Linked DNA regions of Homo sapiens. The protein of the gene in region 1 interacts with the protein of each later gene in a pairwise test. Each region holds a gene or a part of one and is shown on either strand. Other genes may lie near its edges. The genes, in order: PECAM1, SKIL, EGFL8 and AP1S1.

What was found.
Region 2: the proteins of PECAM1 (region 1) and SKIL interact in binary tests that used the Homo sapiens proteins (3 or more experiments, as listed by UniProt).
Region 3: the proteins of PECAM1 (region 1) and EGFL8 interact in binary tests that used the Homo sapiens proteins (3 or more experiments, as listed by UniProt).
Region 4: the proteins of PECAM1 (region 1) and AP1S1 interact in binary tests that used the Homo sapiens proteins (3 or more experiments, as listed by UniProt).

What each region holds. Positions count from the first base shown.
Region 1 is NC_000017.11:64,373,860-64,380,881, forward strand, and holds part of PECAM1 (platelet endothelial cell adhesion molecule precursor), read right to left. Parts: intron 4,259-7,022; coding exon 3,965-4,258; intron 1,498-3,964; coding exon 1,192-1,497; intron 1-1,191. UniProt on the Homo sapiens protein: Cell adhesion molecule which is required for leukocyte transendothelial migration (TEM) under most inflammatory conditions.
Region 2 is NC_000003.12:170,374,700-170,381,721, reverse strand, and holds part of SKIL (ski-like protein), read right to left. Parts: intron 479-7,022; coding exon 381-478; intron 1-380. UniProt on the Homo sapiens protein: May have regulatory role in cell division or differentiation in response to extracellular signals.
Region 3 is NC_000006.12:32,160,259-32,167,596, reverse strand, and holds the start of EGFL8 (epidermal growth factor-like protein 8 precursor), read right to left. Parts: upstream 3,003-7,338; 5' UTR 2,940-3,002; exon of another isoform or gene 2,916-2,939; intron 1,460-2,915; 5' UTR 1,432-1,459; coding exon 1,331-1,431; exon of another isoform or gene 1,100-1,330; coding exon 977-1,099; intron 897-976; coding exon 787-896; intron 688-786; coding exon 592-687; intron 511-591; coding exon 340-510; intron 248-339; coding exon 168-247; intron 95-167; coding exon 1-94. Other genes in the region: lysosomal thioesterase PPT2 isoform b precursor, read right to left, coding at 4,647-4,790, 4,975-5,029.
Region 4 is NC_000007.14:101,149,827-101,157,490, reverse strand, and holds the start of AP1S1 (AP-1 complex subunit sigma-1A), read right to left. Parts: upstream 3,016-7,664; 5' UTR 2,977-3,015; coding exon 2,974-2,976; intron 898-2,973; coding exon 719-897; intron 115-718; coding exon 6-114; intron 1-5. UniProt on the Homo sapiens protein: Subunit of clathrin-associated adaptor protein complex 1 that plays a role in protein sorting in the late-Golgi/trans-Golgi network (TGN) and/or endosomes.

The DNA.
Region 1 (7,022 bases):
CTGACTTCTCCCGGCTTGGCAAATGAGACCGGGTCCTGGGAGTGGCTGACTACCTGTCCTAGAGCCCTGTATGTCCTGGACACTCCCCAGCTTCCCTCTGCTGTTGCCTCCTTCTCTCCTGGGAGCATTTCCCAGGCCACCTCATTTGTTTGCTGTTTGTCCAACGCAAATCTACGTTGAACAACAGGAGGCCAAGGCTGAGGACCTGGCCCCTCTTTCCTCCCGATCCCCTCCAAACCCAACTTCCTGGTGTCTGACCCTCGATGGCTTAAAGCAGTGGCTTCCAAACTACAGATCACATAATGCATCAGTGTAGTGTGTCATGGCCAGTGTTTAAAGACTGAAATAGGCTGGGCACGGTGGCTCACGCCTGTAATCCTAGCACTTTAGGAGGCCGAGGTGAGTAGATCATCTGAGGTTAGGAGTTTGAGACCAGCCTGGCCAACATGGTAAAACCCTGTCTATACTAAAAATACAAATTTAGCCAGGCATGGTGGCATGCCCCTGTAATCCCAGCTACCCAGGAGGCTGAGGCAGGAGAATCGCTTGAACCTGGGAGGCGGAGGTTGCAGTGAGCTGAAATCATGCCACTGCACTCCAGCTCAGGCAACAGAGCAAGACCCTGTCTCAAAAACACACACAAGGTTGGGGTGGTGGCTCACGCCTGTAATCCCAGCACTATGGGAGGCCAAGGCGGGTGGATCGCCTGACATCAGGAGTTTGAGACCAGCCTGGCCAACATGACGAAACCCCATCTCTACTAAAGATACAAAAATTAGTCAGGTGTGGTGCTGCATGCCTGTAATCCCAGCTACTCCAGAGGCTGAGGCATAAGAATTGCTTGAACCCGGGAGGCAGAGGCTGCACTGAGCCAAGATTGCACCACTGCACTCCAGCTTGGGCGACAGAGCGAGACTCTGTCTCAAAAAAAAAACCCCAAAAACCAAGCCAAACAAACAAAAAGCATCATATATATTAAGAGTAAAGTGTTGTTGGTGAAACTCTTGTCTGAAAAATTGTATGCAATTTAACTGTATAACAGTCAAAAAAGCTTGAAAAATACTGGCTTAAAATGATTAAGAACAGGTCTTAAGTCCTGAGAACAGCAGCCCCTTCCCAGTTCTGGGTTCTTTCTCCCCATACCAAACCAGAAACCACAAAGAACGATGAGGAAGGGAGCAGGATGCTGACCCGTCACGGTGACCAGTTCACTCTTGGTAGATTCTGAGGTCTGCATATGGATCCCAGAAATGATCCTAGCTTGACATCGGAAGGATAAAACGCGGTCCTGTTCCTCAACGGGGAATTCCAGTATCACAAAATTCTGGTCTCGAGAATTCTTCTCTCTTTTCAGCTTGACCATTTTTTCATTTAGTTCAAGTTTTTCAATTGTGAAGTGTATTGGGGCCTTTTCCTCTGGGACAGAACAGTTGACCCTCACGATCCCACCTTGGATGGCCTCTTTCTTGTCCAGTGTCACCCTGGGACTGGGCACTCCTACGGGGAAAGAGAAAGTCTGTCAGTATCAGCCTGATTGAAGAGAAAGTCTGTCAGTATCAGCCTGATTGAGAGACACAAGCCTCCCTCCGCTGAGTGACTGTAGTTGACCCATGAGAGGGCTCTTTTTTGTTCTCTGAACACCCAGTGCGACCTACCAGGTAATAAATGAACAGGTATGTGCCCAGCACAGTACTAGGCACTTTGAAATATATAAAATCTGGAGGCTGAGGTGGGTGGATCTCTTGAGCCCAGGAGTTGGAGACCAGCCTGGGCAACACGGTGAAATGCTATCTCTACAAAAAAAAAAATTAAAAATTAGCCAGGGGTAGTTAGTGGTGTGCACTGGTAGTCCCAGCTACTTGGGAGGCCGAGGTGGGAGAATCACCTGAGCCGAGGAGGTTGAGGCGGCAGTGAGCAGTGATCCCACCACTGCACTCCAGCCTGGGCAACAGAGACCCTGTCTCAAAAAAGAGAAGAAAAGAAAGGAAAAAATATAAAATATGCTCAATGGGAGCTAAGCTATGAGGAAACAAAGGCATAAGAATGATACAGTGGACTTTGGGGACTCAGGGGAAAGAGTGGGAGGGAGCGAGGGATAAAAGACTACACACTGGGTACAGTGTACACTGCTCGGGTGATGGGTCCACCAAAATCACCACTAAGGCCACGCGAGGTGGCTCACATCTGTAATCTCAACACTTTGGGAGGCTGAGGCAGGTGGATCACCTGAGGTCAGGAGTTTGAGACCAGCCTGGCCAACATGGCGAAACCCCATCTCTATTAAAAATACAAAAAATTAGCCGGGCATGGTGGCAGGCACCTGTAATCCCAGCTACTTGGGAGGCTGAGGCAGGAGAATTGCTTGAACCCCGAAGGCAGAGGTTGCAGTGAGCTGAGATCGTGCCACTGCCCTCCAGCCTGGGCAACAGAGTGAGACTCTGTCTAAAAATAAATAAATAAATAAATAAATAAATAAATAAATTTAAAAAATAAAATATGGTCAAGATGTACTTGGTGTTTTCAATGGTTTATAATCCTATTGGGAAGAGGACACAATCAGATTCCCAACAGATGATGCTTAGAGGGGAAAGGTAGCCAGTATTTGTCAGTGTCACTGTGATTGTTGTTACCCTTTATTGAATGCAGCCACAGGCTAGGACTGACTTTAATTTATTCCATGAACATTGACTGAATGCCTACTATGAGCCACATTCATTGTTCAAGATATAAGAATAAACCAAACACCATCTCTGTCTTTACAATTTCACTATCCAGAAGAGCAGACAGATGTGTAAGAATGGATGGCAATACTGAGTGAAATAGAATATTTGTGGACCGGGCATGGTGGCTCACACCTGTAATCCTGACACTCTGGGAGGCCAAGGTGGGTAAATCACTTGAAGTTAGGAGTTCGAGACCAGGCTGGCCAACATGGTAAAACCCCATCCTTACTAAAAATACAAAAAATTAGCCAGGCACAGTGGCGCGTGCCTGTAATCCCAGTTGCTTGGGAGGCTGAGACAGGAGAATCGCTTGAACCCAGGAGACAGAGGTTGCAGTGAGCCAAGGTCGCGCCATTGCTCTTTAGCCTGGGTGACAGAGGAAGACTCTGTCTCAAAATAAATAAATACATTTCTATTTATTAGGAACTCACTAGGTGCTGGAAATTTTGCTAAGCACTCTACCCACATGACACTTTTAACCCTCTCAATAATTGCCTGAAATGGGTATCGTTGTTATCTTCCTTTTACTGGTGAGGATTTTGAAGTTTAGAGCTGTTAAGGGACTTGCCCAGATTGAAACCCAGGCAGAGTGACTGCAGAACGAGGTGTCTTAACACACCGCTGTGGCCTTTATACACACAAATACCATTGAATGTAGAGAGAGCATCAGAGCTGTACTGACTGGCACCCTGGGGTAGACCCATTTTGTTTTGGAAAGAGAAGACATCATTGAGTTGAGTCTTGAAGAAGAAATTTTAATTTATGAGACGAGATGAAGAAGCATTTTGGGAGGCCAAGGCAGGTGGATCACTTGAGGTCAGGAGTTCGAGACCAGCCTGACCAACACAGTGAAACCCCATCTCTACTAAAAATACAAAATTAGCCAGGTGTGGTGGCACACACCTGTAATCCCAATTACTTGGGAGGCTGAGGCAGGAGAATCGCTTGAACCTGGGAGGCAGAGGTTGCAGTGAGCCGAGATCACACCACTGCACTCCAGACTGGGTGACAGAGTGAGACTCCATCAAAGAAAGAAAGGAAGGAAGGAAGGAAGGAAGGGCCTGGCCTATTGGGAATATGTCTAGTGCTTACGTATTCAGGTAAGGAAAATGCCAGGCAGATGAATGAGAGGGTGATGGGTGGAGAGTTAAGTCCAGTGTCACTATTCATTCACAGCTGTTATTCACGCCACTGTGTGCTATGCTCCATCTGCTTGCCTGTGCTCAGTTCCAAGGACTCACCTTCCACCAACACCTGGTACTCTGCAGTGGTTTTCTCTTTGTTGTTCACAATCACAGTACATTTATATGTCCCTGAGTCATAGATCCGGACTTCAGGAATAAAATAACTCTCTGTGCTCTTCATGGAGGAGATGTTGTAAAACAGCACGTCATCCTTATAGAACAGCATCTGGTGCTGAGGCTTGACGTGAGAGGTGGTGCTGACATCCGCGAAGCACTGCAGGGTCAGGTTCTTCCCATTTTGCACCGTCCAGTCCGGCAGGCTCTTCATGTCAACACTGTTGATTGTGAAAGCTAAATGCAAAGGGAAGGAAGGCAGACATACCTGTTATCTCAGAAACAACATCATCCCGGTGACCTTCACCACATCAGATGTGGTCTTATCCCATCCTATGCAGTATTGAGTCCAGGGGTTCTACGTGCCTACAGGGCCAGGCTGATAGTAACTGTGCACAGTGGCTCAAGCAGGAGGCAGTTGGTACTAAGCTGCAACTTTTCCCACCAAGGCAAAGGAACAGAGTGTGATAAAGATGTAGAGCTAGGTATGGTGGCTCACGCCTATAATCCCAGCACTTTGGGAGACCAAGGTGGGTGGATCACCTGAGGTCAGCAGTTAGAGACTGGCCTGGCCAACATGGTGAAACCCCCTCTCTACTAAAAATACAAAAATTAGCCAGGTTTGGTGGTGCAGGCCTGTAATCCCAGCTACTTGAGAGGCTGAGGCACAAGAATCACTTGAACCTGGGAGGCGGGGGTTGCAGTGAGGTGAGATCTCACCACTGCACTCCAGCCTGGGCGACAGAGTGAGACTGTCTCAAAAGACAAAAAAAAAAAAAGATATAGGCATTCTGTGAGCTGCCACATCTTGGCCCCTGGAGGGAGTACAGGATTCAAGCAGTCAAGTGTTCAAGTCCTGGCTCATCATTTACTGTGTGACCCTGGGCAGCTAGACTCTCTGAGCTCAGTTTCCTTACCTGTAGGATGGAGTAATCATATCTCATTAGGTCTTTGCAGGAAATGTACAGGAGAACAGCCAGAACGTCTCCTGTACAGTGCCCGATATACATTAAGTGCTTAATAAATGACTGCTACCTCCATTCCGAAACCAGATGGTCGTGCCCAGGCCCTCCTTCTCCACCCAGGCCTTACCGAATTAGCACAGTCCCAGCTGGCATTTTCTATCTGATGGGCTCTGAGGTTTCACCAGATGGTGAGGACTTGAAACCAGTTTTTAGCCTGCTACTTGCGTTTTCAGCCTCACCTGCTACCAAGAAGCAAAGACTACAGATTCCCCTCTGCCAACGGCAGGAATCTCTGGTCAAGCCTCAAAACAGCCACAATGCTCAATCAGCTATCCAATCTCTGCTAGGAACTAGGCTGTGGGTCAACTGGCCAATTGTGTCATTTCTGGCAAGTCCCCAGAACAGAATTGGCTTATATCCAGTAACCATAGGCTGTCAATAGAATTCAGCTAACTACAGATCACATATTGAGGCTCATTCACAGTAGCAGGCTGACGGAAGGGTGGATTGCTTAAAATTGGGTGCTCTCTAGCTATTGCTGTGTTTTTGTCAGTTGGTTGGTTGTGGGCAACTGCCCTGAAAATTTTCCAGGCTAGAAGATCCTGAACCATGCCCATGGGTCAGGACTTGTATCCAAACTTCAGAGCAGACCAGGGTGAACTGCTTTTTGGAGATCCTCTTGGCAATGCCTGTAGGTGCTTCTGCAGCCCACTTGTGGTCTTAGTTTTACCCCTTGACATATCTCAAAGCACTCACTAGCTTCCCTGTGGTTGTCTTTTCCAAGCACATGAATCTGGGTTTAATCAGCACCATAAAATATTCACTCTCCAAATTCCTGTCAGAAAACAACTTCAAACATCTCATGTTCTATACATGGCTAAAAAAAATATGGATGAAGCTAGGTGCAGTGGCTCACACCTGTAATCCCAGAATTTTGGGAGGCCGAGGCAGGAGGATCGCTTGAGCCCAGAAGTTCGAGACCAGCCTGGGCAACATGGCAAAACCCTGACTCTACAAAAATACAAAAGAATCAGCTGGGCATGATGGCATGTGTCTGTAGTCCCAGCTACTCAGGAGGCTGAGGTGGGAGGATCACCTGAGCCTGGGAGGTCGAGGCTGAAGTGAGCCATGATCATGCCAGTGCACTCCAGCCTAGGTGACAGAGTGAGATCCTGTCTCAAAAAAAAAAAAAAGAAAGAAAAGAGGCCAGGCGCAGTGGCTCACGGCTGTAATCCCAGCACTTTGAGAGGCCAAGGTGGGTGAATCACCTGAGGTCAGGAGTTTAAGACCAGCCTGACCAACATGGTGAAACCCTGTCTCTACTAAAAATACAAAATTAGCCGGGTGTGGTACATGCCTGTAATCCCAGCTACTTAGTAGGCTGAGGCAGGAGAATCGCTTGAGCCCGGGATGCAGAGGTTGCAGTGAGCTGAGATCGCGCCATTGCACTCCAGCCTGGGCAACAAGAGCGAAACTCCATCTAAAAAAAATTAAATAAGTATAAAAAAGAGAAAAAGTAATTGATCTGTAGGGGATTTGGAAAAAAATGTACTGAAAGTCCATGACCATAAAACCAGGTGTTTTTCCCAAATCCCTACACGTCCCCCCAGAAATTTCTACCATGCCCATTCTCAAGGAAGCTACCTATCCAGCATTTGGACCTGGGATTGAAAGTGACTATGTCTGGTATGCTTTCTTAGCCCCCCATCTATCTCCATGAAGTATGAATAATGCAATCATGGAATTTTTTAAAATTTTTGAGTGAATGGAGCAGTCCAATGTTTAAAACTCTCAAAGACAGATGACATGATATGTAAAAACCTCAAAGAGTCTGCAGACAAATTATTAGAAATAAATGTGAGTTTAGAAAGGTGGCTGGATAAGGCCAGGAATGGCAGCTCACACCTGTAATCCCAGCACTGTGGGAGGCCAGGAGTTCGAGATCAGCCTGGCTAACATGGTGAAACCCCGTCTCTACCAAAAATACAAAAATTAGCCAGGCATTGTGGCATGCACCTGTAATCCCAGCTACTTGG
Region 2 (7,022 bases), on another chromosome or scaffold:
GTGGCTCACACCTGTAATCCCAGCACTTTGGGAGGCTGAGGCAGGCAGATCACTTGAGGTCAGGAGTTCGAGACCAGCCTGGCCAACACTGTGAAACCCCATCTATACTAAAACTAAAAAAATTAGGAGGGCGTGGTGGTGTGAGCCTGTAGTCCCCGCTACTCGGGAGGCTGAGGCAGGAGAATCGCTTGAACCCGTGAGGCGGAGGTTGCAATGAGACGAGATCGCGCCACTGCACTCCAGCCTGGGTAACAGAGCAAGACTCTGCCACCAAAAAAAATAAATAAATAATTAAATTCCCATGTCCTAGAATAGTGCATGGCATATAGTTGTTGAATGAAGAAATGAATGAACAAACGAACAAATAAATACCAACTCACCTGGGGTGTAAAAATGAATGTGTCTGAGAAACATGGTCACCTTCCTGCTTTATAACAGGATACCATGACTGTAATTCCATTCCTGATGGTGCATCTGTCTGCAGAAAAACATGGAAGGGAAACATTTATTGAAGTAAAACTGTGAAGGTTAATTTTATGTGTCAACCTGACTGGGCCACTGGGTAAAGACAACTAACATTATTTAAGAGTCATCATGCCACGCACAGTGGTTCACACCTGTATTCCCAGCACTTTGGGAGGCAGAGTGGGGAAGATTCCTTAAGCCGTGGAGTCAGCCTGGGCAACATAGGAAGACCCAGTCTCTTTAAAAAAAAAAAAAAAAAAATTAGCCAGTTGCAGTGGTGTACATCTGTGGTCCCAGCTACTTGGGAGACTGAGGTGGGAGAATCCCTTGAGCCCAGGAAGTTGAGGCTTGCAGTGAACCATGATTGAACCATGATTGCACCACTGCACTCTATCCTGGGCAAGAGTGAGACCCTGTCTCAAGAGTCATCTTCCAATAAGGCAGTCTTCCCTTGAAGAAGCCTGATTATCACCTGAAACTCAGAGACACCCACATGAACTATCCCATCACAAGAACAGTTTCAGTATGCATGCTAACATGGAGTACCAGAAATGACTGCATCAAATTTCATACTTACGAAATCTATTTTATTTATTTATTTTTTTTTTTTTTTTGAGATGGAGTCTCGCTCTGTCACCCAGGCTGGAGTGCAGTGGCGCGATCTTGGCTCACTGCAACCTCCACCTCCCGGGTTCAAGCGATTCTCTGCTTCAGTATCCTGAGTAGCTGGGATTACAGGCACCCACCACCACACCCAGCTAATTTTTTGTATTCTTAGTAGAGATTGGGTTTTGCCATGTTGGCCAGGCTGATCTCAAACTCCTGACCTCAGGTGATCCCTGCTCCTCAGCCTCCCAAAGTGCAGGGATTACAGGCATGAGCCACTGAGCCTGGCCAGAAATCCATTTTAAATAATAGAACTCTATAAAGGTATAGCACTGGAAAATTGATTCTTATTCCTGTACTACAATCGGCTAGACTATACCCTATCCCTACAGTATTTGTTAGCATATTAGCTAGATACCATTCTACAGCAATACTTTGCCAAATTAAATCCAAAACCACATAGTTTGCTAACACTTGTCATTAAACTATATTTCCTAATAAATATAAAAAGGATTTTTTAATACTTAAAGATGAGCTATAACTAAAAATAAAGAAAAATAAGGAGAAAGGTAACTGGTAACTTAATGAACATCTACGGGCTGAGAACTTTATACATCATTCTTAATTCTAACAAATATCCCCCATTAAATAGGTATCATTACCATTTTACAGATGAGAAAACAACTGACGTTCAGAAATTGAAGAGGGGCTCGGTTCAGTGGCTCACACCTGTAATTCCAGCACTGTGGGAGGCCGAGGTGGGTGGATCACCTGAGGTCAGGAGTTCGAGACCAGCATGGCCAACGTGGCAAAACCCCATCTCTATTAAAAACGCAAAACTTAACGAGGCATGGTGGTGCGCTCCTGTAATCCCAGCTACTCGGGAGGCTGAGACAGGAGAATCACTTGAACCCAGGAGATGGAGGGTGCAGTGAGCCAAGATCATGCCACTGCACTCCAGCCTGGGCAACAGAGCAAGAATCGTCTCAAAAAACAAAACAAAACAAAAAAAGAAATTGAAGAGAAAAAAAGAATAAATGATCTGTGGTTACTAACTTCTCCCTTATTTTGGTTTACTTTATTTACACTTTGTCCTCCCTTCATCCCCTACATATTTCCTATTATACGAAATTACCTTGCTTTTGTGGGAAAAGGATACTTAAAAGGGGGGGCAAGACTCACTGGTAAGGGAAAGGGGAAAGAAGGAAAGGAGAGCTGAAATGTGGCATGGTTAAGGTGACCAACAAAAATAGGAAGTTAACAGACAAACCCAGGAAACTGAGGGAGAATGCGATTAGGAACGAGTTAAACAAGGGAAAAAACAAAAAAGAGAGCTGGATATTTCTCTAAACCCTACCTTTAAGAGGTTCCATGGCCAGGCGCAGTGGCTCATGCCTGTAATCCTAGCATTTTGGGAGGCCGAGAAGGGTGGATCACCTGAGGTCAGGAGCAAGACCAGCCTGGCCAACATAGCGAAACCCAGTCTCTACTAAAAATACAAAAATTAGCTGGGCGTGGTGGTACGAGAAGGGTGGATCACCTGAGGTCAGGAGCAAGACCAGCCTGGCCAACACAGCGAAACCCAGTCTCTACTAAAAATACAAAAATTAGCTGGGCATGGTGGTACGCACTTGTAATCCCAGCTACTCGGGAGGCTGAGGCAGGAGACTCACTTGAACCCAGGAGGCGGAGGCTGCAGTAAGCCGAGATTGCACCACCGCACTCCAGCCTGGGCAACTGAGCCAGAATCCATCTCAAGATAAAAAAAATAAATAAATAAATAAATAAATAAATAAATAAAAGAAGCTCCAATTCTGGTCGGGTGCAGCAGCTCATGCCTGTAACTTTGGGAGGCTGAGGGAGGTGGATCACCTGAAGTCAGGAGTTTGAGACCAGCCTGGCCAACATGGAGAAACGCCGTTTCTACAAAAATTAGCTGGACATGGTGGTGAGTGCCTGTAATCCCACCTACTTGGGTGGCCGAGGCAGGAGAATCACTTGAATCCGGGAGGCAGAGGTTGCAGTGAGCTGAGTTCGCGCCACTGCACTCCAACCTGGGTGACAGAGCAAGACTTTGTCTCCAAAAAAAAAAAAAAAGAGAGAGAGAGAGAGTCCAATTCCCAATTCAACAAATTAGGAAAGTAGCAAAGCTGTTTTGCCTGATGTCCCAATATTCCAGTTTGGAACCAAGAAACTAAGGACTGCAAACAGATCTCTGGATGTTAAGCAGTAGTGATTAAAACAAAATCAACTCTAAACTATCCAAACTCTGGTTTGATTACTGAGATCCTACTAATGGAGGAAATCAATGAGAATGAAGAAACCTGGGAGAGATCTGACAAGTAACCCACTGCCCTCAACAAAACAGGCTGAAAACAGAAAGGAAACCGCTCTTAGAATATGTATCTTAAAATCTGATCAGTCAGGAGATGACTTAGGGCCAACTAAAGGACAAAAATAGGCAGGGCACAGTGGCTCACGCCTGTAATCCCAGCACTTTGGGAGGCCAAGGCAGGCAAATCACGAGGTCAGGAGTTCAAGGCCAGCCTGGCCAATATAGTGAAACCCTGTCTTACTAAAAATACAAAAATTAGCCAGGTGTGGTGGTACGCACCTGTAATCCTAGCTACTCAGGAGGCTGAGGCAGGAGAATCGCTTGAACCTGGGAGGTGGAGATTGCAGTGAGCCGAGACGGCGCCATTGCACTCCAGCCTGGGTGACAGAGCAAGACTCTGTCTCAAAAATAAAAAAAGAAAAAAATATGTATGTGGGAGATCTTTATTTTTGTTAAGAATTAGGCCAGGCACAGTGGCTCACACCTGTAATCCCAGCACTTTGGGAGGCCAAGGCGGGTGGATCACGAGATCAGGAGTTCAAGACCAGCCTGGCCAAGATGGTGAAACCCCGTCTCTACTAAAAATACAAAAAAAAAAAATTAGTCGGGTGCGGCAGCAGGCGCCTGTAATCCCAGCTACTCAGGAGGCTGAGGCAGGAGAATCGCTTGAACTCAGAGGGCGGAGGTTGCAGTGAGCCGAGATCGTGCCACTGCACTCCAGCCTGGGTGACAGAGTGAGACTCTGTCTCAAAAAAAAAAAAAAAAAAAAAAAAGAATTATTGAGCAATGAATTTGAAATACTAATAAGACCTCAAAATTATAAGAAAAAAATTAATATTTTTAAAAGATTTAAGAGTTGAATATTCAGTGAAGGTCTCTACATGATATGTAAATGTGGAATTAAAAAAAAAAAAAAAGGCCTGGGCACAGTGGCTCATGCCTATAATCCCAGCACTTTAGGAGGACAGGAGAATCAACCGAAACAGGGGAACAGAGGTTGCAGTGAGCTGAGATCGCTCCACTGCACTCCAGCCTGGGCAACAAAGTGCAACTCCATCTCAAAAAAAAAAAGGAAAACAGAAAACGAAACATCACATTTTGAACTAATATTCAGAATCTGGGCAAATTCCACTGCTTATTTATAAAACAAACTGATCACTTATTTACATAGTTCCTCAGCCTATAGCTTAGTTATAGCAGTAAGAAAGGGAACTGACTTCTGGCAACAGAAATACTAAATGATAGATGCTAAGTGACAGCTGACAGCCTAAGGAGAGAGGAAAATTACAAGATGCAAACACAAAAACTGCTTCAAAAAGCAAGACAATCTGAGTAAAGGCTTTAGCATAGACCGGGGCAAATAATTTAATATATCTCAATTGTCCCCTACCCCAATTCAACAAAGTATGGTAATTAATGTTTAAGAATCTTGAGTTGGCCAGGCGCAACGGCTCACATCTGTGATATTACCTAGCACTTTGGGAGGCCAAAGTGGGCAGACTGCTTCAGCTCAGGAGTTTGAGACTGGCCTGGGCAACAAGGCAAAACCCCATCTCTAATAATAATACAAAAATTAGCCAGGCAAGGTGATGTGTGCCTGTAGTCCCAGCTACTTGGGAGGCTAAGGCAGGAGGATCACTTGAGCCCAGGAAACAGAGGTTGCAGTGAGCTGAGATTGCTCCATGGCACTCCAGCCTGGGTGACAGAGCCAGACCCTGTCTCGTTAAAAAAATAAAAACTCTTGAGTCAACGTGACATAGCTAAATTATGTTCTGTATACCACTTAGATTCAAAACTTTTTCAGACATTTTACAATTCATGAAAACAGTTTTTTAAAAAAACACAATGCTTTTAAAAAGTAGCTTAACGGGTAGAACATTTTGCACCCCAGCTCTACATGACCAAAGAGGTGTCAATGAACGAGGATAAGTTCATTCTAACAAATCAGTAAAATTTAAGATCAGTTTGAGGGCAGGAACAGTGGCTCACACCTGTAATCCCAGCACTCTGGGAGGCCGAGGTGGGTGGATCATTTGAGGTCCGGAGTTCGAAACCAGCCTGACCAAATGGTGAAACCCCATCTCTAATAAGAAAAAAAAAATTAGCTGGGCATGGTGGTGCATCCCTGTAATCCCAGCTACTCGGGAGGCTGAGGCAGGAGAATCACTTGAACCCAGGAGGTGGAGGTTGCAGTGAGCTGAGATTGCGCCACTGCGCTCCAGCCTGGGCAAGACAGTGAAACTCCGTCTCAAAAAAAAAAAAAAAAAAAAAAAGGAAAATCAGCTTGAATTAAATGAGAATTTCTTTTCTAGACATCATTTGTTAAAAAACAAAGAAAGCTCCTCTTTAAATAAGTGTTATATCTGAAAGAATTCTAGATGTACTGCCCAAGAAATCAATTGTTTCCAGATTTTTTAAATTAAAACTACTAAAATTGGCCCTACCCAGTGGCTCACACCTATAGCCCCGGAATTTTAGGAGGCCAAGGCACAAGGACTGCTTGAGTCCAGCAGTTCGAAACCAGCCTGGACAACATAGAGAGACCCCCATCTCTACAAAAAAAATTGTTTTTAATTGGCCAGCCGTGGTGACGCATGCCTGTAGTCTCAGCTACTCAGGGGACTGAGGTGGGAGAATCAGTTGAAGCTGGCAGGTTTGAGGTTGCTGTGAGCTATGATCCTGCCACTGCACTGCAGCCTAGGCAACAGTGTGGGGCTTGTCTCGAAAAAAGAAAAAGAAAAAAATATAAAATTACTAAAATTGATTTATATATTTCAAAGTTTTTCCTATAATGAATACTGGAATCTCAAATCTTCAGAATATCAAGCAAATTCTAAATTTGCTCAAAGACCTTGACTTGAAATCTGACTCAATTTTGATCAAGTTCATTTCAAAACCCTACAGTTTGATTTATAAGAGTAAGTTTTATCTTTACTCATGAGCCAAACCTAGCATCTATTTATTTCTGTGTCTCTAAACTTCAGGTGCCACCTTAAATAACTGCTAGCACATTCCTTTATTTTTAAACAGTCATCCCTCTTAGCTCCTATTCTTTATTTTATTTCCTAGTCTTGACCAACCCAGTAAGAGTCAGACTAGAGCTTCTAAGGAATCTTAAAGATCACCTAGCATAGTCCCCTAGCCAATGTCTGAATTCCCTATTTAAAATCCCTGTTAAGTGGCTACGCAGCCTCTGCTTAAACAGCAGCTTGAGGTCAAGAACCAGCCTTACCTTTGTATTTTTAATACCTAGCACTATATGCCTAGCATGTAGTAGGGACTCATCTATCAAATATCTATTATTTGTTGAATGAATTCTGAATGACAGTGCAGCTCATTAATTCCCAAGGTAGCCTTTTACAAGGTTATTCTGCTACCACAAAACTCTTGGTCTCTTTCACGTTTGATATCCCTCTACTCCATGAAGCACCAAGGAAGCCCAACAGTTTCTAAGGCTGCATTTTTCAGAGATATAAATTAAACAATACAAATGATGGGGACACGCACAACACTAACCATGATAAAATGTTGCAAGCTAATTTTACCTAATATGCTGTGGTAAGCCATAAACACATTTATAACAAATTATCCTAACTGTATGTTAAAAACAATTAAG
Region 3 (7,338 bases), on another chromosome or scaffold:
CCCGGCCCCACAGCTCAGCCACCTGTTCTGGCTGCAGCTCTTCAGGCGGCACGGGCAGCACCGCTCTGACCCAGGCCCCAGCCTGACCGGCCCACTAGAAAGGAAGAGATGCCTCAGGGTATTGACAGTGACGTCTGGCCTCGCCCCACCCAGCAGGCTTGGCTCACCTGCTCCAGCCGCTCCAGGCGCCCTCGCAGCTCGTGAATCTCCTGCTTCAGAGCGCGCTCATCTTTTTCCGCCTCCCGAACTAGGGACAAAGGAGACCAAGAGTGTGACCACTACCCGAGCCCGGACGCCCGTCCCGAGTCCCTCGGGTGGCCCGTACTCCTGCCCACTCACCGGCCACGCTGAGTATGCTGGCACTGGTTGGGGGCTCTGGGGACCCCTCCATGCAGGTGCGCCCGTCCACGCCTAGCACTAGGTCATGGGGGCAGCCGCAGGTGAAGCTGCCTGCCGTATTAAAACAATGGTGCGAGCAGAGGGTGATGCTGGTCCTACATTCATCCACGTCTAGTTACCGAAAAAAGGAAGGGGCTGAGAGAGGGGGCGGGGGCAAGCACCTGGGTAGGTGGGGAGGACAAGCTGACTCACCCACATGACAGTGCTTCCCTCCCCAGCCGGGGGCGCACTCGCACTGGTCAGGCCTAACGCAGACGCCTCCGTTCAGGCAAGGCTTGGCGCAGATGGCTGAGGACAGAGGAAGTGGGGTTCAGACTCAAACCGACGACCCAGCTCCCCAGCTCCGTGGGGCGCGCCTCCCGCAAGGCCCGGAAGACCCAGCCTCACCTTCACAGGTGAGCGCCCCCGGGTGCCGCTTCTTCCAGCCCTGGCAGCACACTGCATGGGTCTGCTGAACCTCCCGCCTCACCTCCCGCCACATAACGCGGTACATGGTCCTGGAACACAGCGCCCGGCTCAGGACCCTGAGTACGGGTCCTAGTTGGGGTTCTTGGGGTCCCATCTCCCCATCCCTCACCTGTAAGTGCTGCAGATGCGCCTCCCAGCGCACAAGGTCAGGTAGGGCTTGTACACTGGTTGGCTGTAGGACTCGTTGTAGTGGAGCGGGACCACCAGTGTCTGCTTGGAGCAGACTCCCTGACTGCGTCCATGCCAGAGGATGAGGTGGGAGAGATTGAGTAGGCCAGGCCCTGGGGAGCCAGGAGTCCCACTTCCCTCAAGAGGCTACTGAGGCCCCCCGCTCTCCCTCCAGATGACAGCCTCTCACCCCCATTCTAAACTTACAGTTATGTTTTGCCTCCTGTGAAGCCCCACCCCCAGCAGAAGGCTCCTGAGAAGAGCTCACCCCGGGCCCTACCCCCTCTGTTGTCACCTCTCTCTGAGGGATCCACCCTTGGCCCCCTCGCCTGGTATCAGTAGCAGGAGGAAGGAGAATCCGCCTAAGAGAGTGCACAGCTCAGCCCTGGACCCCATGATTCGCTTTGACGCTGGACCCTACAGGCTGCAGGCAAGAAAAGGTTAATGGATGCCCGTCCCCTCTCCTATTAATTTCTCCAGCACTAGTCCCTCCAAGGGCACTCTGCAGGTACCCTCTAAGGGAGTCAGGACATTCACTTTTACATACTAGCCACCAGGATTGCCTACACCTGTGTGTACAACCCAACACTATCCTGTCCTTAGCATATCATGATCCTTTCAGCATCATAAAAGCTCACACCCCAGCACACTCCCTCCACCTCCCCTCTAACCTACTTACTTCTAATCCCCTCTGCACAACCTGGAGGGACACACAGTCAACCCTCCCCTTATGACCCTCCTGTCTTTTTTTGGGTTTTTTTTTGTTTTTGTTTTTGAGAAGGAGTTTCGCTCTTACTACCCAGGCTGGAATGCAATGGCATGTTCTTGCCTCACCGCACGACCTCCGCCCCCCAGGTTCAAGTGATTCTCCTGCCTCAGCCTCCCAAATAGCTGGGATTACAGGCATGCGCCACCACGCCTGGCTAATTTTGTTTTGTTTTGTTTTGTAGGGTGTGAGGGTATATAGCTAGGGTTTTTTTTTTTTGGTTTTTTTTTTGTTGTTGTTTTTTGAGACGGAGTCTCGCTGTCACCCTGGCTGGAGTGCAGTGGTGCGATCTCGGCTTGCTGCAAGCTCCGCCTCCCGGGTTCATGCCATTCTCCTGCCTCAGCCTCCCGAGTAGCTGGGACTACAGGCGCCTGCCACCACGCCCGGCTAATTTTGTTTTGTATTTTTAGTAGAGACGGGGTTTCTCCATGTTGGTCAGGCTGGTCTCGAACTCCCGACTTCAGGTGATCCGCCTGCCTTGGCCTCCCAAAGTGCTGGGATTACAGGTGTGAGCCACCATGCCTGGCCAACCCTCCTGTCTTTAACATGCCCTCTTATAACTTCATACCTTCAAAACCCTAGCTGGTTGGGCGCGGTGGCTCACACCTGTAATCCCAGCACTTTGGGAGGCTGAGGTGGGTGGATCATGAGGTCAGGAGTTCGAGACCAGCCTGGCCAAGATGGTGAAACCCCATCTCTACTAAAAAATACAAAAAATTAGCCAGGCGCAGTGGTGGACGCCTGTAATCCCAGCTACTCGGGAAGCTGAGGCAGGAGAATCCCTTGAACCCTGGAGGCAGAGGTTGCAGTGAACCAAGATCATGCCACTGCACTCTAGCCTGGGCGACAGAGCAAGACTCCGTCTCAAAAAAACAAACAAAACAAACAAACAAAAAAAACCCCTAGCTATATACCTTCACACCGTACACACAAACCAAGCACCTGGAAACTCCACACCTTTCACACACTGCTACTCCCCTCATATACCCACACCGTCACATAACGCCCTAAATGCACATCCCTTGCTCCAACAAAACACCCCGCAACTCATGCCCACCCTAAGGCTCTGAGTAAACCCCACTCTTTCCCCATTTGAAATTCTCTCCCCACTTGCCTTCCTCTCTCTCTCCATTCCCACCTGGCTTCTTTCTCCTGGGAGGCTTCAAGCAGACCAGCCTCAGCAGAAGCAGCTCAGACTGGTGGGTGGGCCTGGCAGGCTAAGAAGGAGAGGAGGGGCTGGGCCAGAGAGTCCTCCCATTCCTGCCCCCTCCCACAAGCCTCCTCCTTAGCTCCAGCAGGGTCAGCTCAGTAGGGTCAAGTCCCACTACCCTCATCCCCACCCCAGCAAAGGGCTCCCTAGAAGTATCTTTCCAACCCTCTGAGGCCCCTATTTCTGGACTCCCCAGATCAGAAGCTATGAGCTCTGTAACACCACCAGTACCCCCTTGAACCCAAAACAGACTAGGGGAGAGTTAGGGGGCAGGGAGAGAACCAGCTGCAGGGAACAAAGCAGTTCAGGTTATGGGAGAAAAAGCAAGATCAGCTGAGGAAAGCTAGAAGGGCAAGTCGTCACAAAGGGGCAGGGGGGCAGCCCAGGGCACCAAGGGGAAAACTGCCCCCCTCTCTTCATGACATTTGTTAGGGCTTAGGGGGAACAGAATTGAGTCAGCCACCACCCCCCATGCCAGAACAGACAGGGCCCTATTGTCTCAGCCAAAATTCCTTCTTTCAAGGAAGAGGAGGCTCATTGTCCAGCCCTACACCCAGCTCTGGCCCACAAAGCTCAAAAGCGGCACAACGAATGCCCACCCTGACCCTCTGCCCCCTCGTCTAGCCTGGGGGTGGCAGGCGCATTCCACCCATGAGGCTGAGGCCCAAACCACTGGAGCCCTGAGCTTAACCCCCCAGTCTTGGGGACTGGGAGAGGAAGAGAATTGTCTTCAGCAGGAAAGAACCCGCAGAGAACCAGGAACCCACAAAGAATGGGCATTGAGAGAGAGCGGAAACACCAAGGGGGTCCCCACCCTAGACCAGGCATCTGGGCACCCAGGCCTCAGGCTCCACCCCCACCCTCCTTGGGGAGCCAGGTCCCCTCCACCTGGAAATGAGCCAAGTCACACTGAGGAAATGGAACTTTATTTCCATAAATACAGGGATAACACCTATTCAAAGGTAGTTAAAAGAGGGCCTGGGGCCTCAAAGAAACTAGGCTCTCCCAGGGGGGTACTCCAACACTGATCATAGGGACTGGGGGATCCCCAAACCTGAGATGGGCCTCATAGGCCACAGATATTCCCCAACACTGACACTTCAAGAACGGAACTGTCCCCATAGGGGAGCCTCAGAACCCCACTCTCATGGGTAGTCCCTCTTAGGAGTTGGGAGGGCTGATGTCAGGGGACTTTAGAGAAAAAAGGGAACATGGGGAGGAGAGAAGCTAAAAATGTCCTGAGTGGCCTGGAAGGAGACCCCTGTGGTGGGCAGGGGGTGGGTTCTCCACCCATACAGCCAGATACGGAGGAGCAGCAGCAGCAAAAGCAGCCACAAGTTAAAAACATGGTTTCTCACTTCCCAACTTCGGCCTTGAGAGAAAGGGACAGCACGGAGCAATCCCCCAAATGAGAGGACATGAGGTAGGGGAGGCCTGGAATTGTCATTCATGGAGGAGCAGAGGAAGGGGGTTCTGGGAGGCCAAGTCTCTACTAAAACCCCGTCTCTACTAAAAATGGGGGATAATATGGGAGCAATGAGGTGGTCACAGGCACACCAAAGCCTGACATCTGCTTTCCAAGGCCACCACTTGGTCTCTGGACCGAGGAGTTCCTGGGGACCCCTGAATATATCCTCAGGAGAGCCAAGGTTCAATGCAGGTCTCATAAAGGGTACGGTTGGAGTGCCAGGCTGTGTGGGAGATACCGGCCATTGGACACCTCACTATGGCCCCCCGGGCCAATAGAGTCTTCAACCCAAAAGAATCCCGCAGATAAACCTTCAAGGTGGTCGAAGGGGCGTGGAAGCATGGAAGAGAGACACAAGGAGAGACAAAGTGAGTTACTGCTGGGATCCTGGACCTCCTCCCCACAGGGTGAACCCTTCAGCTCAGGAGTCACAGAGAGGGCTCTGGAATAAGGTGGGACAGCGGCTAGAAGGGGAAGTAATCCCAGGGGGCTCACCAGTTGCTCCTCCATCTCCAGGACGGTCTCATTTGCATCATAGAAACCAAAGAAGCTACAAAGAGATTTGGGGGGAGGTTATCAGAAGAGCTGGAGAAAATCTGGCCGGGCGCAGTGGCACACGCCTGTAATTGCAGCACTTTGGGAGGCCAAGGAGGGCAAATCACCTGAGGCCAGGAGTTCAAGACCAGCCTGACCAAAATGGTGAAACCCCATCTCTACTAAAAATACAAAAATTAGCTGGGCATGGTGGCAGATGCCTGCAAGCCCAGCTACCCAAGAGGCTGAGGCAGGATAATTACTTGAACCCGGGAGGTGGAGGTTGCATTGAGTCGAGATCGCACCACTGCACTTCAGCCTGGGTGACAGAGCGGGACCCCATCTCAAAAAGGAAAGGAAAGGAAAAAGGAAAGAAAAAAGAAAAGGAAAAAAGAAAGGAAGAAATCAAGGTGGGCTAAGGTCCCAAAGGAACCCAAGGCCTACTGGGGAGACAGGTAGCAGGGAGGACACTCAAAACTACCTTACTGGATATAATGTACTTCATGAGGTGATACACTGAAGATACGACCTCACTTCTGTAGAAACCCCATCAAAAATGCATTACTGGCCGGGCGAGGTGGCTCACACCTGTAATCCCAGCACTTTGGGAGGCCAAGGCCGGCGGATCACCTGAGGTCGGGAGTTCAAGACCAGCCTGGCCAACGTGGTGAAACCCCATCTCTACTAAAAATACAAAATTAGCTGGGCGTGGTGGCTCAAGCCTGTAATCCCAGCACTTTGGGAGGCCGAGGAGGGTGGATCATCTGAGGTCAGGAATTCGAGACCAGCCTGGCCAACACGGAGAAACCCTGTCTCTACTAAAAATACAAAATTAGCTGGGCGTGGTGGGCGCCTGTAATCCCAGCTACTCAGGAGGCAGAGGCAGGAGAATTGCTTGATTCTGGGACGCAAAGGTTGCAGTGAGCCGGGATGGCGCCACTGCACTCCAGCCTGGCGACAGAGTGAGACTTTGTCTCAAAAAAAAAAAAAAAAGAGGCCAGGTGTGGTGGCTCATGCCTGTAATCCCAGCACTTTGGGAGACCAAGGAGGGTGGATCACCTGAGGTCAGGAGTTCAAGACCAGCCTGGCCAACATGGAGAAACCCCGTCTCTACTAAAAATACAAAATTAGTTGGGCATGGTGGTGGGCGCCTATAATCCCAGCTACTCAGGAGGCTAAGACAGGAGAATCACTTGAACCTGGCAGGCGGAGGTTGCAGTGGGCCGAGATTTGCCATTGCACTCCAGCCTGGGCAACAAGAGTGAAACTCCAACTCAAACAAACAAACAAACAAAAAGATACTAAAGAGACGTAACAAGATCATGCAACTCAAGATCCTGATTTGGATCTTCCACTGTATATTTTTTTCTGTAAGGACAGTTGGAAAAATTTGAATAATCTGTGAGCGCATATTCAGGAAAATTTGAATCTATGTTTATATTTAAATATAACATTAACGTATATAAATAAATGTATATATATTTAGAGAAAAAAGATATTAATGTAAACATGACAAAATGTTAACATTTGCGAAATCTAGGTGAGGAGTATAAATGACTGCTTTTTGCTATTTTGGTAACTTTTTTTTTTTTTTTTGAGACAGGGTCTTACTCTGTCACCCAGGCAGGAGTGCAATGGTGAGATCTCGGCTCACTGCAGCCTTGGCCTCCTAGGCTCAAGCAATTCTCGTACCTCAGCCTCCCAAGTAGCTGGGACTACAAGGGCACACCACCACGCCCAGCTAATTTTTGTATTTTAGGTAAAGACAGGGTTTTGCCATGTTGCCCAGGCTGGTCTCAAACCCCTGGGCTCATGCCTCGGCCTCCCAAAGTGCTAGGATTACAGGCGCAAACTTTTCTTAAGTATGAAATTATTTCAAAATAGAAAGGTCTTAAAATCCTTTTTTTCTTTTTTTTTTGAGACAGAGCCTTGCTCTGTCACCCAGGCTGGAGTGCAGTGGCACCCTGTCGGCTCATTGCAACCTCCGCCTCCTGGTTTCAAGTTCTCCTGCCTCAGCCTCCTGAGTAGCTGGAACTACAGGCGTGCGCCACCAGGCCCACTAATTTTTGTATTTTTAGTAGAGATGGGGTTTCTCAATGTTAGCCAGCTGTTCTCGAACTCCTGACCTCAGGTGATCCACCCGCCTCGGCTTCCCAAAGTGCTGGGATTATAGGCGTGAGCCACCGCACCCAGCCAGATGGAGTTAAAATCTTTTAATTAAAAAATATTGGCCAGGCAAGGCCGGGTGCGTGGGCTCACGCCTATAATCCTAGCACTTTGGGAGGCCGAGGCGGGTGGATCACGAGGTCAGGAGATCGAAACCAT
Region 4 (7,664 bases), on another chromosome or scaffold:
CTTACACTGCCAAAGTATTTGTCTAAGAGCTCCACGTATCGGTGGATCAGCTCCAGTGTGATGAGCTCATTGTCTTGGCCCTCGATGGCGCAGCAGAAGTAGAGGCTGGCATATCTGCGGAGAGGAGCGCATGAGACATCGCTACAAGCTTGCTTCAGGACCCAGGCATTCTGGTCTCAAACCTCTCACCAGCCTGGAGGTGGTCTGTGCCCTGGCTGGCCACAGGTGAGGTGGCCCTAGGGCATGTAAAGAGTAACTCACCTGCCTCTTTGTGCTGTCTTAAAAACATGCAAAGAACGCATGCTTTTTCCTTCCTGCCCTCTGACCTCCTAAGTTTGACTCAGCAAAAACCTGAGCCAAGTAATTTACCTGCTCCGAGGAGAAGGAACCGGAAAGGGTGTGTGTGTGCGTGTGTGTTAGGAAAAGTAGGGCAGGACCTTTGACTGCAAGGGACATGCGCAGTGGGGCAAGACAGGGCCCAAAGGGACACGTGAGTGAGGCAGGTGTTGCACGTGAGCAAAACCAAGTGGTAAACAAGAACTTCTTTAAGAGTTTGGGGAGAAAAAAAAAAAAAAAAAAGGAAGCTGACATTCATTACTGTCCTCCAGATGTCCTCAGCTCCCAGGTCTCCCTGACCTACAGGACGACCATTTCTCAGACATTTTAACCCACTGCCCAACTTGAATCTAGGCAGGTCTGAAAGTAGGTGGGGAGTCACCTCTTATAGACAACTTTGAGGTCCCTCCACTCCAGGAAGCTGCACATCTTGGGCTTTCGAGCCAGGACAACCTGCATGAGCTCGCGCACCATCTTCTTCCGTTCCTTGTCCGAAGTGGCCAGGTACCATTTTTGCAGCCGCAGTTTTCCCTGCCGGCTGAATAATAGCATGAACCGCATCTGTGGGGGATGGGAGGGCAGAACCGAGGGTAACCACACATTCCCCAAACTTATCTCCAGCTAATTCTTCTCTACTTTCTTCCAACATCCAGCCCCTTGCTCTCAAGGCTGGGTGTTTCCACCAGCAGGGGGAAGTCAGAGCTTCTGAGTCTGTCAGCTGGGTTCAAATCCTGGCTCTACTAGTTATGCAAGGCCTTGGCCCAATTACTACTGTAAGTCTCTGGGCCTCAGTTTCCTTATGTGTAAAATGGACATTGTACCTGCCTTGCACAGTTGTTAGGTGAGACTAAATGATTTGATATATGCAAGTCCCTAGCACAGGCAGGCAGTATAACATGTTAGCTATTATTATTATTATTTTTGAGACAGAGTCTCTCTCTGTCGCCCAGGCTGGAGTGCAGTGGCGCAATCACTGTTCAGTGCAATCTCCGCCTCCCAAGTTCCAGCGATTCTCCTGCCTCAGCCTCCTGAGTAGCTGGGATTACAGTCACGTGCCATCACGCCCGGCTAATATTTGTATTTTTAGTAGAGATGTGGTTTCACCATGTTGGCCAGGCCCTGGTCTCGAACTCCCGACCTCAGGTGATCCACCCACCTAGGCCTCCCAAAGTGCTGGCATTAAGGCATGAGCCACTGCGCCCGGCCGTTAGTTATTACTATTATTACCATGATTCCCTGACCTCTTGCTTTCTGGTCTGCTTTCTAAAGGTAAGTAAAATGCCTAGCACAGTGACAAGACGACAGTAACCGACGCCAAAGAAATGCCTGTTCTCTTCCACCCTCTCTCTATCCATCACCATGCTGAAATCTGGTATTTTGTCCCTGGAGAAGCTACCTCAATTTTCCACCCCATCATAGCCATAAGATCTTAATGATCTCCCAAACATATCATCCTCCAGTGCCAGGCCTATGCCCAGGGGTATCCTCCTCTGTAGTATGTATCTCCAACACCACACAGGGTATGCAGATGCCCAAATCCTATCTTCCTCTCTGCAGGCACCCAGGCATTTGGTCTTCGACATTTCTCTTTAACTTTTCTTCCTTTTAGGGTGCCTCCTGCTAAGCGCCCACTCCTCCCCAGACACCAGGTGACCAATTTCCCTCAGTTAGGGCCCCGCCACCCAGGGGGTTCCCCTAAAAGAATGTCTGCAGAACAGACAGCAAGCTGGGTCAAGTGGGATGGAAGACAGAACCCTCACTGCCCAGTGTACCCCAGCTTCCCAGTTCCGGGGGGTCTGGGCCACATCCTGGAGTCTTCTCCTTACCCCAGTAGCTCTTCTATTCATGGACATGCCCAGGCTTGGAATCCCTGGGTGTGTGGCACTGTACTAGCTTAGTAAGTGAAAAATCAGAATTCAGGAGAACTGATTTTTTTGGTGGAGGGGAAAAGAGGGGCGCTGGGGAGCCTCGTGCGGCGCTCAAATAGGGGGGTGGGGAGCAAGCAGGAAGACGGAAGGCCTGGATTCCGGAAAGAGAATGGGAAGGGGGGCAGAGAGCCCCGGAGCCCGGGATCCCAAAGCCTGGGTCCCTCGGAGAAAAACCACGAGTCCACTTCGCTTCCCTACCTGGGCCCAGCCTCTAGGCAAGCACGGCCACGAACGCAGTAGGGCGCTCCCTTTTCCGACCCGGAAACTCCCCTCCCACACCCCTCTCCCCACCCGGGTCCCCGCTCCCGCCTGTGCAGCCCGGGAAGGGGGTCTCGGTGACTGGTGACCCCCGCTCCCTCCCTCAGCAAAGAGACTCCCGCAACCCTCTGCTTCGGGCGGCTTCCCTGCAGCGGGGATCGAGGGACCCCAGGGGCCAAGACCAGAGCGCCCCTCCCGGCTCGGGACGGCCCCGCCGCCCCTTCGTCAGCCCCCGCTCGCCCTGCAAATGCGCCCCCTCCCCGCCCCTCTCCCGAATGCCACCTCCCCCTCTTCCTCCCGAGCCCGGCTCGCCCACCCGCCGAGGCAAGGGAGGCCTCTGAGGACCAGAGGGAAGACAGGGCGGTTCACCCCGAGGGCGGCCCCCGAGGACCCCCGCAGGTGCAGCCCACGCCCCTCGCTTCCCCCTCCCCTCCCTCTTCGCACAGCCTACCATCCTGCAGCCTCCGGCTCGGCGCGTCCCACTTCGGCCACCGTAGGCGCCAGTCCCACTCCCTTTCTTATCCTTTCTCCTGCTGCCCTCCCTCTCGCCCGAAGCCCCGCCCCGTCCCGCCCAGGCTCTGACTCCCGGCGCGCCACGCACTGCGCAGGCGCCGACGCCGCGGGGAGCGCGGGCGGGGCTGGAGGCGGAGAAGCGGAAACCATGGCAACCAGGTCCTTGACTGCAGCTTCTAGGAGCCCGGTCGTCATGGTAACGCGGCTGTCCTGTGGGCTGGTTGGAGGATGGGGGAGGAGGACAATAAGGTCCTCGCGCTTTGGAGCCTTGTGGGGCAAAAAGGCGGGAAAAGGGGTGAGAGGTGAATGGGACGATCATTGGAGTTCGAAGCAGCAGGCAGGACTCCTGGAAGGGGAGTGGGCCGTGAAAAGGGAGCAGGGTGGGAATTAAGTGTAGGGGAGGAGGAGTGACCTGGAAAACAGAAAGACAAAGGGTCATGAGAAAAGTATAGAACCCAAGCTGAATATCTATTGAAAGCGTGATAGATACACCCCTCTAGTTTTTTTCTTTTTAGAGACAGGGTCTGGCCGCGTCACCCAGGTTGGAGTGCAGTGGTGGGATCGTGACTCTCTGCAGCCTTGAACTCCTGGCCTCAAGCGATCCTCCCGCCTCAGCCTCCTGAGTAGCTGGGACTACAGACGCACACCGTCATGCCCAGCTAATTTTTAATTTTTTTTTAGTAGAGACGGGGGTCTTACTATGTTGCCCAGGCTGGTCTCGAACTCTTGGGTTCAAGAGACCCTCCCGCCTCGGTTTCCCAAACTGCTGGGATTACAGGCGTGAGCCACCGCGCCTGGCTTCTGATTTTACAGTAAGAGAAATGTGTAGAAAAAGAATAAAAGAGAAAAGGAGAGGCTGCTATAAAAGGCATGTAAGGAGAAGGGGGAGGAACGTGAACTGAGGCAAAAGGGGAAGAAATAAAGAGCGTCTTAAAAGGTTAACTTGGGTCAAAACTCAAAAAGGGACAGATGTCACCCAAATCTCAGTGTGAAGATGAGGTGGATGTACGTTGTAATATGGGCTTTTAAACTGAATGTGTGTGTGTGTCTACATGTTACTGGAAAAAGGGGTCCCGATCCAGACCCCAAGAGAGAATTCTTGGATCTCATGCAGGAAGGAACCCAAAGCAAGTCGTAGAGTGCGATGAGAAGAGAGAGTTTATTGAAAGCTACACCCTTACGGAGTAGGGCGTCCTCAGAAAGCAAACAGAGGAACACACTGTCTTAAGTTTTTCTTTTCTTTCTTTCTTTTTTTTTTTCTTCTTTTTTTGAGACAGGGTCTTACTCTGTTGCCCAGGCTGGAGTGTAGTAGCATGATCATAGTTCACTGCAGCCTCCACCTCCTGAGCTCAAGCGATCCTCCCACTTCAGTCTCCCAAGTAGCTAGGACTACAGGCATGCACCACCACAGCCAGCTAATAGTTGTATGTTTTGTAGACACAGGGTATTGTCATGCTACCCAAGCTGGTCTGGGACTCCTGGACTCAAGGTATCCACACTCCTCAGCCTCCCAAAGTGTTGGGATTACAGGTATGAGCCACCGCCCCTGACCTTTAAGTTTTTCTTATATAGGGGTCTTGTTTTTGTAGAGACTAAACTAAGCCGAGTCAATGTGCAGATGGGCCAATGGCATGACAAAATTTATTATTCTGTTAATTTAACTATCCTTGACATTCTAGTAGGTAAGTACATCAAAGCAAAACTTAATTATCTTTCTTCCTTTTTTTTTTTTCTTGAGACAGAGTCTTGATCTGTTGCCCAGGCTGTAGTGCAGTGGCGTGATCTCAGCTCACTGCAACCTCCACCTCCTGGGTTCAAGCCATTCTTGTGTCTCAGCATCCCTAATAGCTGGATTACAGCTACATCCTTTCACCTCAGCCTCCCAAGTAGCTGTGACTGCAGGCATGAACCAGTGCATCCAATTAATTAAAAAAATATTTTGTTGTAGAGATGGGGTCTCACTACTGGGATTGTAGGCATGTGCTACGACACCCAGCTAATTTTTGTATCTTTAGTAGAGAGGGGGTTTTGCAATGTTGGCCAGGCTGATCTCGAACTCCTGGCCTAAAGCAATCCTGCCTTAGCCTCCACACCCAGCCAGAACTATAATTATCTTAAAGGCACATATTGTTATGGGTATTGGGGCATCTGGATTTTCTGTAGTTGGAGGAGTCTGTCCTTGCAGGTATCTTTAAGCTGTTTCCCCAACTGTAAACAGCTTTGGGTTGTGACTGACAAGGAATGTGCCTTGTTAGTTTCAAGATGGAGCTGAACTTAAAATGGCTTTATGCTGGCTCTCTGAGGCTCCTGCTTCCCTAGCACAAATGATAAAGTAAAGAGGTCTGGATAGAAGGATAAGAGAAAATCTTAAATTTTGTCATGCAGAAAAGTTAATGGTAGATAATTGTTGGCAACTAATGTGCTATTATTTTTGAGTAGCACATGATGCAATTGTTGGTAAGGCCTCACCTCCTGTCTCCACTTTATTTATTTATTTTGTGTATTTATTTTTTTGAGATGGAGTCTTGCTCTGTTGCCCAGGCTGGAGTGCAGTGGCACAATCTCGGCTCACTGCAACCTCCACCTCCCGGGTTCAAGTGATTCTCCTGATTCAGCCTCCTGACTCAGCCTTCTGTCTCAAAAAAAAAAAAAAAAAAAGAGGACAGTAGTACATATCTTGCAAGGTGGTTCTGAGGATTAGAGGTAATGTATAGCAAGTATCTGTAAACACTTCATAATGGTACCTATCATTTCCTCTTCCCAGACTCTTCCTTTTTTTTTTTTTTTTTTGTTGTTGTTGTTGTTGTTGAGACGGAGTCTCGTTCTTGTTGCCCACGCTGGAGTGCAGTGGCACGATCTCGGCTCACTGCAGCCTCCACCTCCCCGGATCAAGCAATTCTCCTTCCTCAGCCTCCCAAGTAGCTGGGACTACAGATATCTACCACCACACCCCGCTAAGTTTTATTTTTTTAGTAGAGATGGGGTTTCACCACGTTGGCCACGCTGGTCTCAAACTCCTGACCTCGAGTGATCTGCCTGCCTTGGCCTCTCAAAAGTTCTGGGATTACAGGTGTGAGCCACCGCGCCCGGGCCCAACTTCTTTCTTCTTTTACTTTTTCTTCTTCCTTTTGCTTTTGTTTTCTTTTCTCCTCTGCCTCCACCTTAGGCTTTTCAACACCATCGTCTAAGATATATGACATATACTAGTGGAATATCTTACCAGTGGCATAGATTATTGGCTGCCTGAACTATTGTGGTGCTACTTATTTATTTATTTATTTATTTTTTTTTTTTGAGACAGACTCTTGCACTGTCGCTCAGGCTGGACTGCAATGGTGTGATCTCGGCTCACTGCAACCTCCACCTCCTGGGCTCAAGTGATTTTCCTGCCTCGGCCTCCTAAGTAGCTGGGATTATAGGTGCATGCCACCACGCCCAGCTAATTTTTGTATTTTCAGTAGAGACGGGGTTTCACTATGTTGGCCAGGCTGGTCTCGAACTCCTGACCTCGTGATCCACCCGCCTCGGCCTCCCAAAATGCTGGGATTACAGGTGTGAGCCACCAAGCCCGGCAGCTATTTATTAGGTCAAGAATAAGATGGCACAGACAGTTAGCTGGCTGGACTATCCTGGTTGTGGGGAAAAGCAAGACAGATCAGATTGTTACTGTGTCTGTGTAGAAAGAAGTAGACATAGGAGACTCCATTTTGTTCTGTACTAAGACAAATTCTTCTGCCTTGAGTTTCTGTTAATCTATGACCTTACCCCCAACCCCGTGCTCTCTGAAACATGTGCTGTGTCAAACTCAGGGTTAAATAGATTAAGGGCGGTGCAAGATGTGCTTTGTTAAACAGATGCTTGAAGGCAGCATGCTCCTTAAGAGTCATCACCACTCCCTAATCTCAAGTACCCAGGGACACAAACACTGCGGAAGGCCGCAGGGACCTCTGCCTAGGAAAGCCAGGTATTGTCCAAGGTTTCTCCCCATGGGATAGTCTGAAATATGGCCTCGTGGGAAGGGAAAGACCTGACTGTCCCCCAGCCCGACACCCGTAAAGGGTCTGTGCTGAGGAGGATTAGTATAAGAGGAAGGCATGCCTCTTGCAGTTGAGACAAGAGGAAGGCATCTGTCTCCTGCCCGTCCCTGGGCAATGGAATGTCTTGGTATAAAACCCGATTGTACGTTCCATCTACTGAGATAGGGAAAAACCGTCTTAGGGCTGGAGGTGGGACATGCGGGCAGCAATACTGCTTTGTAAAGCATTGAGACGTTTATGTGTATGCATATCTAAAAGCACAGCACTTGATTCTTTACCCTGTCTATGATGCAAAGACCTTTGTTCACGTGTTTGTCTGCTGACCCTCTCCCCACTATTGTCTTGTGACCCTGCCACATCCCCCTCTCGGAGAAACACCCATGAATGATCAATAAATACTAAGGGAACTCAGAGGCTGGCGGGATCCTCCATATGCTGAACGCTGGTTCCCTGGGTCCCCTTATTTCTTTCTCTATACTTTGTCTCTGTGTCTTTTTCTTTTCCAAATCTCTCGTTCCACCTAACGAGAAACACCCACAGGTGTGGGGGGCAACCCACCCCTTCACCTGGTATCATTTGTAGGTCAAGAATA